Homo sapiens: one gene and its partners. The protein of the gene in region 3 interacts with the protein of the main gene of each other region in a pairwise test. Each region holds a gene or a part of one and is shown on either strand. Other genes may lie near its edges.

Region 1 (3,500 bases), on a different chromosome or scaffold from region 3:
ATGTAAATAGAAAATATCCTATAACTCTCTATAACTCCCTTGTTAATTAGTATATAACTAATATGCTTGTGATTGTTAAAAACCACACGAAATCTATTAGCAGTTATGTGACATTTAAATGTGAAATTATAATATTGTTGAATATGTAAATTACAATATACTTTTACAAATAAAGACCATACATCTAATCCCAAATATAAAATACTTCCTAACATCCTACACAGGAATCACTAAAGGGATTTTTTAACTCAAGTTAGTGACTTGGGCCCCTTAGCTAACCTGAGTTGGAAAGAACTGCTAACACCCAGGGTAAGCTAGCATGACAGCTTATATACTAGAACAGTCTTTTTGATGGGCAAATTGGAAGTGTCTTATCAAAATTTAAAATGTAGATACACACTGATTCAGCAATTCTCTATTTAGGAATCTATAGATATTAGCATGCATAAAAGTATTTGTAAAAAGACTGTCACTGCTTGTTGCCTATAATAGCAAAAGTTGGATTTTAAACTTATAAATGACTAAGAAACTTCTTTTATAAGAGATGGTAGGTATCACTTTGTCGCTCAGGCTGAAGGGCAGTAGCACCATCAAGGCTCACTACAGCCTCGACCTCTCAGGCTCCAGTGATCCGCCACCTCAGCCTCCAGAGTAGCTGGGACTACAGGTGCGCACCACTAAACCTGGATAATTTTTTTTGTAGAGACAGGGTCTCACTACAGTGCCCAGGTTGGTCTCAAACTCCTGGATTCAAGCAATCCTCCAGCCTCAGCCTCCCAAAGTGTTAGAATTACAGGCGTGAGCCACTGCACCCAGTTAAAATTCTTAAATAAATTAAAAAGTTTATGGTTTACCCTGTGATATTAATACTATGCAGATTTTATAAAGAATGAAATATATCTATGTGTAAGCATGGAAACATGTCAAAGCATACTTTAGGTTAAAAGCAAACCACAGAAAAAAATGTGGGTATACATTATTACACTATTATTGTACTGCATACTGTTACTGTTTACTCTTGGAGAGAACTGGCATAATTTTCACTCTTTATTTTGACATGTTCTAAGCCCAGGAGAAAGGGGATAGATTTGGAGGGGAAGATGGGGAGATGAAGGGGGAGATGGAGAAGGAGAGGGAGGGGGAGGCTGAGGGGAGAAGGATAAAGAGTTAATTTTACCTTTTTGTCATTTACCAAATTTTCCAAAATAGACTTTTTAAAAATAAATTGAGGAAAGTAATAAACAGAATCTAAACTTTTAAGGATACTAAAAAGCTGCACTTTTACTCTCAAAAAAGATGTAAGTCCTTTAGTATTATAATACTTTGGCAGAAAATGAATAAAGGGTGGAAATGACAGTCATCATTTTAAGACATTGGTTCACTATTACTTAAATAATGACCATAAAATTAAATTATTAGCAATTGAAAGAATTACCTTTTCTAAGAGCACTTCTCTTTCAATTTCTACTTCTTCACTCCAAACAGTCATATCATTCTTAGTTTTTTGTGTTACAGTCAGAATCATTAGTTTGCCATTAGCTACTTCTGGAAACAGTGATTCAAAATCTACAAATAAGAATAAACATTCCAGGTAGAAAAGAATTTGATTTTTAAAGAACAAATTTTTAAAGAAGGATAAAAGTACTTCTTTAGAAAAATGCTGATTAAGTAAAATTACTGTGGTATTAGTTAATTTTTATAAATGTATGTTATTTTTGAAAAGGGTAAAATTCACTTAGTTTTGTTTACTTCTGCTTTTGTTGGATGAACTGAAATATTACTACCAACAATCCTGAAGGGTAAGTAGGATTACACGTTATTTGGGGTTAATATAATTTTCAAAAATGCTTACTGTTAAGATTTTTCCGTATTATATTAACTCATAAAATTATAACTCTAATAATCACCCAGGAGTAAAAATGACTTTAATTTAGCCTTAGGAAAAAAGTTATTAAAAATTTTACTCTTCCTATCTAATGGCAGCATGAGGTCAGATGTCACAGGACATTTCAAAGCCTTTATCTTGGCCATGCAATCATTTCCAGCCAGATACGGTAAAATATAATATTAAGGTATACAGCGTTCCAATTTCTATAGAGTACATTATTCAACATATTAAAAAAATTAGTAACAGTGTTTCAAAGTATAAAGCATGACATACCTTTTCGCAGCAATTCTGGACATGTCTGTATTGCACACTCTACTCTGGCACTTTCAAAGTAAGTTTCTGCACTGTTAATTTCTTGTTCAACAGGTGCATCATTACCCTAAGGGGAACAAGGATATAAGTCAACAAAATCTGGAGTTCAAATAAAACGGTATCTTGCCTGTTATAAACCTGTCTTCCTTAGAAAGCTTTTTGTTTGTTTTTACAAAAAATTATAATCTAACTGGGAGGTGAGGTAATAACATTTTCTCATTTACTCAAACTTTTCTCTACAATGAATATAAGATTTGGAAGTTCAAAAAATGTGAATACAGCAGAGCATGAATATATAAATATACTGATATTCTAAAACTTGGTATAAACAGAAATTGGCTAAGTAACTAAAATGCCATAATGTGTCTCATAATGTTACCTCTTCTATTTTATGGTAATATTTAATTATCTTTTCTTCTATAATCTGTAAAAGGGGGATAATGATACTAACTTACAAGATACATGACTAAATAATACAGCCTCTCCTACAGGAAGAGCTTAGAGGCTTTTATTCAACTGAAATTTACTGAGAGCCTACTATACATCAGGCACTATGACAGGAGCAGGCGCTGCAATGGTAAAAAATTCAGTCCTCACTCTCAGCTATTTCAGGCCTAATAAAAAAAAATAAGTACAAGCAAATAAATGCAATTAAATATGACAAGTGCTACAGAGTTATGAATAAAGTCTTCCAGGGGCATAGATGAGGAAGAAACTTACTTTGCTGGGAGGAATCAGGAAATGATTGAAATGGTGATATTTGAGCTACAAGTTAGTTGATGTGTTATGTCTGACAGGTAAAAAATAGCTGGTACAGAGGTTAGGAATTCAGGAGGAAAAATAGTCCAGCAAAAGATAATAAAGTACAAAGACACAGAATGTGTATTCAAGAAAAATGGCAAGTATGTTGTGGCTGGAGTGCAGAGGGAATAGGAAGTAGTGGCAGATAAGGTGGGAAAGGTAAGGGATCAAAATTATGAAATGCCATTTATTCAGCATTAAGAAATTTGGACTTTAGTCTACAGGCAATGAGAAACAGCAATATCAAATACAAAAATTAGCCAGGAATGGTGGCATATGCCTGTAATCCCTGCTCGTTGGGAGGCTGAGGCACGAGAATTGCTTGAATCCAGGAGGCAGAGGTTGCAGTGAGCCAAGATTTGCAGAGCAAAACTCTGTCTCAAAAAAAAAGAAAGAAAAAAAAATATTGTGGGCTAGAGATTATTACTATCCTCATGTGACATTTATAAAGAAACAGGAGTGGTCAGGCACACTGGCTCACGCCTGTAATCCCAGAACT
Region 2 (2,151 bases), on a different chromosome or scaffold from region 3:
TGCTCAAATATCACACACCTAAGATAGCTTCAGAGTGAATTTGACTTCTAGGTACTTAAAATTACCACCACTTTAATATTAAGGAATTATAGCTACTCAACTATTTAACAAGGAAGACTCAACAAAAATAAAAAAAAATCACTCTTTATCTTAAATTTCAGTATTTGCTGTCATTAACTAAGGCAAATACCAAATATCAAAATGAATATTGGTCTATTTAAGTAAAACTGAAAAACTTTACCCACATATTTTCCTAAGCTGTAAAATTCCACTTGCTTAAAAGAACACATTCATCTTTTCAAATAAGAAGAGGCAATAAGAAAAATAGACCAAAAAAAAAAAAGATAAACTTTGTCTAAGTATGAAAGCAAAAATCACTTCCTTAGTATCTTAAGGGCCTTACTTGACATGCTAAGGTCCTTAGTCTCCTGAGTTTCATGCCCACATTTAGGACAAGGAGGCTGTTTTCCTTTTTCTTGCTTAAACACTTTGCTCCTTGTATGATCATCACAGAAACAAGCCTGTATAGGAGAAGCAAAATAAAGTAAATAAATAAAAATGTAAAAATATACAAAAAGACAGTATTCAGTGTTTTAAAGATATAGCTTTATTAAGGCAGTGAGATTAACAATTTTGTTGGGAGCAGTCACACTTCTCATTTCATTTTCTTAACAGAAATGGTTTTTGTCAGGACCCTTCTGAACAATGATCTAACAAAAGGCAGACTATATTGAGTATGACATGTAAGTACATTTAGCTGTTCACAAATATTTCAGTACTCATAAGGTCCCTGATGAAATGAAATAATGGTGAACAGCCTATTTACTCTCACACAGTGTATGGTCTAACTAGGGATGGAGACAGTGAAAAGGCAATTACAAGACACTAAGCACTGAACGGGAAGTGCAGAGGGAAGGGCACTAAAGCAGACATGGGATTTGGGAAAGGCATCTTAGAGACACGAAGTCTTAATAGCCATATGAAGAATGGGAGGGCAATAGGGTAAGCCAAGATGGAAAAGTATTCCAGACAAAGAAAACACAGATAATGCCTGAACACCATTTGGTAAAACTAGAACAGAGTTGGAAGATAAATAAGACATAGGGTTAGGAATATAAGAACTAGAGAAACGCTTCTGAGAGGAAGGGCATTGGCTGCATCTGTTTAGTAATCTTTGACGAACGAATGCTAGAGACTAGGCCTAAGGACACAGAAAAATTTGGAAATCTTTACCCAAACTCTTCTAAGCAGGTATATTTTGACATTAATTAAAATAGACTCTCATCATCTTGGTCAGAATGTTCTCCACTAAAAACACAGAGCCAGGATTCCAGAGAAATGTGCACTAGCCACAGCTCTACTAAAAGGTGACTGGATGACCATTGGAAAGTCATGTAAGCTTTCTCAACTTCAATTCCACAGTCTCAAAAATAAAAGAATTAGACTACATAATTTTAAGGTCCCTTATAAATTAATTATAGCTGCATATAAGCCAAGGACTGGTGGAGGGGTATAGAGATTAAAAACAAAATCTAAAAAGAAAAAAACGCATTGGTATACCTTACAACGGAGACATGAGTGCTGACCAAGCCGATTGCATGAAACACCTGTGGGAAATAGATTAATTTTAAAATCCCGTTATTTGGTTCTTAGAATTTTCTTTTGTCTTTTATCAAATCACTAAAAGCTTGCAATGGAATATAGCCTTATAGACAGCTGCCTGTCTTTTGGGTTCAAATGCTATAAAACACACAAAGCTCCCATGCTGCAAATAAAATAATTAAATTTATTATTATACATTCTGCAAAAGGCGACGAAAGGCTCAAAAATGCTATATACTTCGAGATGCTCTTTTAATCTGAGAATTTTATATATAAATATTGCAAGAATTATATACACATGCATACACATTGTGTGTCTATGTGTGTGTAGTATGTATGTTGTATGTATATCACAGAGATGACTTATCTACTTTAAATTTATAAATAAGTATAATAATTAGGATTTCATACCAGAACAAGAACCAAATTAAAGGAAGAGAATACCTGGGGAATTTCGGTCTTTTTCCTATAATAGTAACTACTATTTAAAAAGGGCTTTTTAAATGCCAAGTACCACATGCTATTGTTTTATATGGTGTCTCATTTCAAT
Region 3 (3,500 bases):
TTATTCCATTTGCATTTTTTCTTTTTTTCTCTTTTCTTTTTTTGCTTTTTTTTTTTGCTTTTGTTTTGATTCTTCAACCATATATCCAAGTCATAAGTTTCACTGGACACTCAAAACCATCTTTTGAAAGCACTGCATACAAGGAAAGATTGTTGATAAATATTGATTTAAAAAGTAAGTTATTAGATAAAACTGAAACTAGTTATATAAAAATCATGCTTCGAGACCCTCATATTTTCTTTTTTTCTCCAAAATAGATTCTTATACTATAGTGAGAGAAAAAAACACATCCTTCCCTTTTCTGCACTCTTATAAAAGCTACACCTTTTGTAAAATACTGTTCTTTTAAAACCCATGAACACACACACACACACACACACACACACACACATTAAGAGGTCAAGCATTCAAATGGAGATGAAACACCAGCACCTGCCTAGATTGCTAGAGAGAAACATTCACCCCTGTTATTTGTGAGATGTGATATTAAAACATTAGCACAGTAGAATGGCTTGTTTCAAGGAGGCACGACTGTGGTTCAGGGACTATCTGCTTTGTATCACGGGCAAGTTCACAAAAGTTGTTGAAAATAAATCAGAATAATTCAGAAGAGTGAAGTAGGCTGGGTGCAGTGGCTCACACCTATAATCCCAACACTTTGGGAGGAAGAAGTAGGATAGTTTGAGACCAGCCTGGGCAACATAAGACAGACCTCATCTTTTATTTTAAAATAAAAGTAAAAATAAATTAGCCAGGCATGGTTATGTGAACCTGTGGTCCCAGCTACTCAGGAGGCGGAGGTGGAAGGATAGCTTGAACTCGGAGGATGCTGCTGCAGTGATCCATGATCGCACCACTGCACTTCAGTCTGGGCAATAGGTGAGACTCTGTCTCAAAAAAGAAAAAAAAAGAGTGAAGTAGCCTGCACCTCATCCATGGGGTTCCTTCAGCAGTCAAAGAGTGCTTAACTGTTGTGGGAAGGCTAAAAGTGCCCCTATGGAAACACTGGGTTTTCTTTCTCTCTTTGTTTCTCCAGTAGTTAGTCTATTTTCACCCCCCAGAACAGCAAAGCCGGTTCCATAGGCTTAAGAAAAAAAAAAAAATAAATCTTAGGCTATTAGCAGCTGATGATTGAACAATGTAATCTGTGTAGTGAATAGAGCCCTTCTGAATTATTATGTAGTACATGGATTTTCAACGTTATAGGCAGGCCGTATAAAACCAGTCGCAATCCAAGGGTGTCATGTTATAGCCCCACATCAAAATTTGGACTTTCGCAATCAAGGCTTACAAAGCTCCCTTCCCTAGTGTCTCCCCAGCTGGTATTCAACCATGCTTCACTTATAACTAAACCACCTTTCATTTGCTGTGATTATTAAAAACATTAAATCAGGCACATTAAACATCTCCTGGTTACTATTTTGTGAAAAGCAAGAGTTGAATGAACTCCAGCTGTGGGTGAAGTGTAAGTGAAGCAATGGTTAGGTCCACGTTTTGGAGGTTTGCTTTTTTTTTTTTTTCTTTAAACATTATTTTCTTATTCACATGCAATGCTAAAGGGAAAAAAATAAAACAGAAGGAAGTCAAAATGAATAGTAAATAGGGAGCCTAAGAAAAAGTGGAAATGGAGAAGAAAACTGGGCATTAGCAAGTGGACCAAGAGGAGGAGAGGTGAAGAGATGCTTGGTGGTATTATTTGGACATCAATGGATCTTATAATATTTTATAGTAAGAAAAAAAAAGGTATGGGAAAGGCTGTGTGTTTATCTGGAATTCTGGTGACACCACAGCACAAACTCAACATGAGTTAAGATGTCAAAAGATTTCCTACCCAGTTACCTTGGATCTGTCTTACTTGACATCTAGGTATACCTCATTTTAGCTAAAAGCTGTGGTTTAACAAGATTCAATGTTTCAGGCAAAGGGTTGGACTGATAAGAATGAAACCATGGCTATATACAGAAAAGGTTCAGTTTATAAACAAGTAACTGGTACCAGAAAACTGGAGAAAAGCACCAAAGCGTTTCCCAAGCTGATAGATATTAATTGCATAACTCCCTTTTTTCTTATATAACTAAGTATAAAAGACAACATTTCCATAATAACTATAAAAATGAAAGCCAGTCTTTGAAGAACTGAGGAGTCTTCCAGGTCTGAGTTAATTCTAAAAATGCCCTTAAAAGAAAGGACGCATGGTACGCTACAGCTCTTCTTGGAGGCCAGGTCTGATGGTGCATTTTAAAGAATCGGATTCAGGTCTGTTCTGTGAGTGGTGAGCTGGCTGAGGGTGGAGCTTCCTACCACCTCGCTGACCGATGAGGAAGTAGTGATGGTATTATGCTGGATGACTTGTTGCTGGGAGCAAGCTGGGACAGGACTAGCAGGAGGGCTACTCTCTGGACCTAGGGAGAAAAAAAAAGACAACACACACACATACACACACACCAATATAGGTCTTTTTTGTATGGACTTGTGGACTCCTCAGAGAAACTGTACTAGATATTTACTTGAAATAGAAGTTTCACACATTTTCTTCTGAAAGTTAATTTCAAAACTTTATTTTCAACTGTTGTCACAATGCTATGCCTTTCCAGTTTATATCTACGAGCAAAGCCATGCTTTCTGTATCAGTAAAATGATTTGATGTGTTTCAGTCATGGATATGTGAACTTCCCCATTTTGTCTTTTTAAATAGCCATCCGTATATCAAATGTGGAAAAATACTCACATGTGGTGGGAGAATCTGTGTTGCTCAATCTAAAAAATTATTTGAAAATAAATTGACCTTCAGCCATGAATCCCTGCTCCTCCCACCATCCCTACTCAACTATCATTTAACCAACTGGCATTCCAGATGCAGAAACTGGGGTCTGAAGGAAGGGATCATTTTACATATTGGTAAACTGAGGCCAGTCACTAGCTTTTCAGCCCAGTGAGTAACATGCAGTGTTTCTGGAGGCACTGGATATGATTCACCCAAGGCCTGGTTCCCAGACCACAGATTTCTGAAGGCGACTGCTAGGCCACTGGTACTTGGGCTTCAGCTGGCTCTTTTCTTACTGGCTGCAAAATTGGAATTTGGTATTTCTTTTGATACTTTGAAATGCTAGGGAAGGAGTGGCCAGAAATTATCAGGAGGTGGTGGGCATGGTGTTGCACAGGGGTCAGAAAAAAGGGATCCCCTTGGAAGAATAGTCTGGAAGCCACTCAAGAATTCTTGTATATCTGCCTGGAAGTACAATCTACACTTTACTTTTGCTCTTTCAATCAAATTCAGTGCAAACTTAGTGGCAAAAAATATTGGACACTAAAGAAAAGTGAAAAAGTCGGCGACTTACTTAGATATCCTTGTGATTCTTTCTGCATGGCTGTTATTGGGCAGTCTTTATGTGTTAACAACAACTGTTTCAGCTGGGCCACCTCATTTTTCAACATAGACACTTCATTCTAAAAGAGATATGTATTAAAACCATGTTGAGAAGACCAGAGGATACAAACCC
Region 4 (2,879 bases), on a different chromosome or scaffold from region 3:
TACATCTGAGACTAGAAAAGAAAACTATTGGAGATGGGGCATCTCTTAGTATGACAGAAATGTAAAGACCATATACTCCTACCTTCTAGACCAAGGGTATATGAAAGAAGGGACTATCTTTTTCAAAAGCTGTATTCTAACTTATGCCATACAGTAGGTTTTCAGTAAATGTTGGATGGATGGATGAAATAAATTGATTAATGGATGAATGTATCTAATCCAAAATTGTATCAGATTCCTTACTCTCCTGTCATTCACTAAGAAGATTAAATAAATCATTTGATTCCCATCACCTTCTTGACAAGAAATAATTAGACTTCTCAAAATCCTGAATGTACACTGTACATTCCTAAGAGAGCCTTCGCTAGCCTACCTATATTTTTAAATAAAATTTTCAAAGACAGGGACTGAATATTGTCCATTTTTCTGTCTCACACACTGCCCTCGTTCTTTTAAAAAATGACATTGTTTAAGTGTCTTCCTTGTGCCTTATCATGTGCAAAAGCCTCACTTGATGGAACCAACAATTCAGAGAGGAAGGTGCTAATAGGCCTGTTTTACAGTTGAGGATTTAGATTGTCTATATATAGTCTTTGAGGTCACTGGGCTCATAAACACAGAGCTCTTCTGATTCCAATTCAAAAAACTATTGGCTTATTTTAAAAACTGCCTTGTTACACAGTAGACATTTTAATTTCTAAGTGAAGAAGTTTAGTCACAATGATCATCACCACCAAATCTGAGGAAACCATCTTGATTCACTTATTAATCCTCCTAGCAGGGTTCTGCAGGCCACACAGCAACATGGGGTCAGGAATGAGGGCTGAGCAGAAGGGGAGGAGTGTATCCTAGGAAGGAAATGGTCTCTGACTCAATGCCACAAAGAAACCTGCCTAGCTGTGGAAGCAGGGCTTGGAAAACTATACTTGGGGATGGGAAGAAGCTGGAATAGCATACTTCCACAGGAAAGCTATGGCAAGGATCTCTGGTGTTCTCAGAAGTCACTCTTTGAGCCTTTGTCCAGGCACAAGCTCCTTAAGAATCCCCTGGCAGCTCCACGGGGACCAGCCTGGGGGGGGCTGTGACTGGTTAAAGCTCCTTTAGACCCCCTTCCCAGAGGGAGGTCTTGGGAGCTCCCAGTGCTTCCTTGGATTGTAGGGACAAGGAGGCAGGGGAATGTGAGGAATGACCCAGCACGTGCCTGGTTGTGCAAGAGCCACTTCCCGCTCTTCCCAGAGCCAAGCCTGAGCCTATAAAAGACATATTCAGCTCCAGCACCTCATCTGCTCTGACTTCCCCAGGACGTGTCTGTGCTCCTGTGTGTGACCAGGGTGAGTGGCAACCTGGGAGCCAGAGGGCACAGGGGAATGGGAAGATTAAGGGAGGCTTCAGAGAGTTATTTCTTTGATTCTGTGCTATTATATGCAGAAAAGAGATACAGTCTGACTTGAGTTTCTGGAAATCTTGCCTTGGGCTGTGAGAAATGTGTATCTGACAGTTTCATCAAGGGCTTATTCTTATATTTCAAAAATGGATACTTTGTTGGGTATGAATACTTTATTCAAGCTCATGAAGATTAGAAAATACTGCCTATCTTCTAAAAGAATAAGAAGCTTCTTATTATATCTGATTTTCAAGTATATATTTTCATTCAGCAGGATTTGTTTTCTTTCACTTGTTGATATATATGTGTGTATGTGTATATATATACACACACTGAGTATTATTCACCATCACCATATGATTTAGTTTTAAAAGAGATAAAATTGCCATCCTTGGTTTTTCACAGCTAAAGGGTTTGACTATTTCGAATTTCAGGTTGAAAAAGTCGCACTGAGATGTCCTGCCAGCAAAACCAGCAGCAGTGCCAGCCCCCTCCCAAGTGCCCCCCAAAATGCCCACCCAAGTGTCCTCCAAAGTGCCGACCTCAGTGCCCAGCCCCATGCCCACCTCCAGTCTCTTCCTGCTGTGGTCCCAGCTCTGGGGGCTGCTGCGGCTCCAGCTCTGGGGGCTGCTGCAGCTCTGGGGGTGGCGGCTGCTGCCTGAGCCACCACAGGCCCCGTCTCTTCCACCGGCACCGGCACCAGAGCCCCGATTGTTGTGAGTGTGAACCTTCTGGGGGCTCTGGCTGCTGCCACAGCTCTGGGGACTGCTGCTGACCAGACCTCGAACATCACAGAGCAACCCTTATGGAGAAACTTGCAACCAGGACCTGTCCCAGAGTGATGCTTCTCCTGCCCCTTTTTCTCCTTTCCTTGGGCTGACACACCTTGTGAGGTGTTTTGTCTGTTGTCATGGCCCAAGAGCCCATCCTGGATCCTGATCTTACCTTCCCACTTTACCTCATACAACAATAAAGCTCTTTTGCCTCTTCGTGAAGTACCCTGGCCATTGTCAATTCTTCTATTCTTTTCAAATCCCTTAAAGTCCAGTGCCCCAGCCGTACACTTTTAAGGATGCTTTGGTAGGAGTGGAGTGTGAGAAAGAGGTATGCTGGAAGCAGTCTCCAGAGGGTCAATCCTGAAAGAGCAGCCTCACAGTAGGGCTTCTCAATGGGACTGCCTGTGTGCACTTGGAGACTGTGAGATGTGGACCCTCTCAGCCCAGGCAGGGGCCTGAAGGGACTGACAGCCCCAGGGCTGAGAACCGCTGGCCATGTGCTGCTTGCTCAGTTTAACTCACCATGCTGAATGTAACTTATTTTCATTTTCTCTTCATACCATGATGACAAAGCTAGAAAAATCTTTGGTACTCCAAGCAAAAAGGTATATTTAACAGAATTCTTTTCATCTGATTTAAAATGCTTGGTATGAGAATCAGAACCCTTAGGGGCAAGTTTAAATGACAACTCATTGCCACTTAACTACTCTCCAGGGAGG

What was found. Proteins that work in one complex are often made in the same cells at the same time.
Region 1: the proteins of CREB5 (region 3) and MMADHC interact in binary tests that used the Homo sapiens proteins (3 or more experiments, as listed by UniProt).
Region 2: the proteins of CREB5 (region 3) and ZNF330 interact in binary tests that used the Homo sapiens proteins (3 or more experiments, as listed by UniProt).
Region 4: the proteins of CREB5 (region 3) and LCE2A interact in binary tests that used the Homo sapiens proteins (3 or more experiments, as listed by UniProt).

Annotation. Positions count from the first base shown.
Region 1 is NC_000002.12:149,574,276-149,577,775, forward strand, and holds part of MMADHC (cobalamin trafficking protein CblD), read right to left. Parts: intron 2,268-3,500; coding exon 2,162-2,267; intron 1,567-2,161; coding exon 1,436-1,566; intron 1-1,435. UniProt on the Homo sapiens protein: Involved in cobalamin metabolism and trafficking. Plays a role in regulating the biosynthesis and the proportion of two coenzymes, methylcob(III)alamin (MeCbl) and 5'-deoxyadenosylcobalamin (AdoCbl). Promotes oxidation of cob(II)alamin bound to MMACHC.
Region 2 is NC_000004.12:141,230,895-141,233,045, reverse strand, and holds part of ZNF330 (zinc finger protein 330), read right to left. Parts: intron 1,608-2,151; coding exon 1,561-1,607; intron 522-1,560; coding exon 404-521; intron 1-403.
Region 3 is NC_000007.14:28,818,018-28,821,517, reverse strand, and holds part of CREB5 (cyclic AMP-responsive element-binding protein 5), read right to left. Parts: intron 3,448-3,500; coding exon 3,339-3,447; intron 2,758-3,338; coding exon of another isoform or gene 2,753-2,757; exon of another isoform or gene 2,534-2,752; intron 2,403-2,533; coding exon 2,239-2,402; 3' UTR 1-2,238. UniProt on the Homo sapiens protein: Binds to the cAMP response element and activates transcription.
Region 4 is NC_000001.11:152,697,064-152,699,942, forward strand, and holds LCE2A (late cornified envelope protein 2A), read left to right. Parts: upstream 1-1,281; 5' UTR 1,282-1,331; intron 1,332-1,818; 5' UTR 1,819-1,838; coding exon 1,839-2,159; 3' UTR 2,160-2,379; downstream 2,380-2,879. UniProt on the Homo sapiens protein: Precursors of the cornified envelope of the stratum corneum.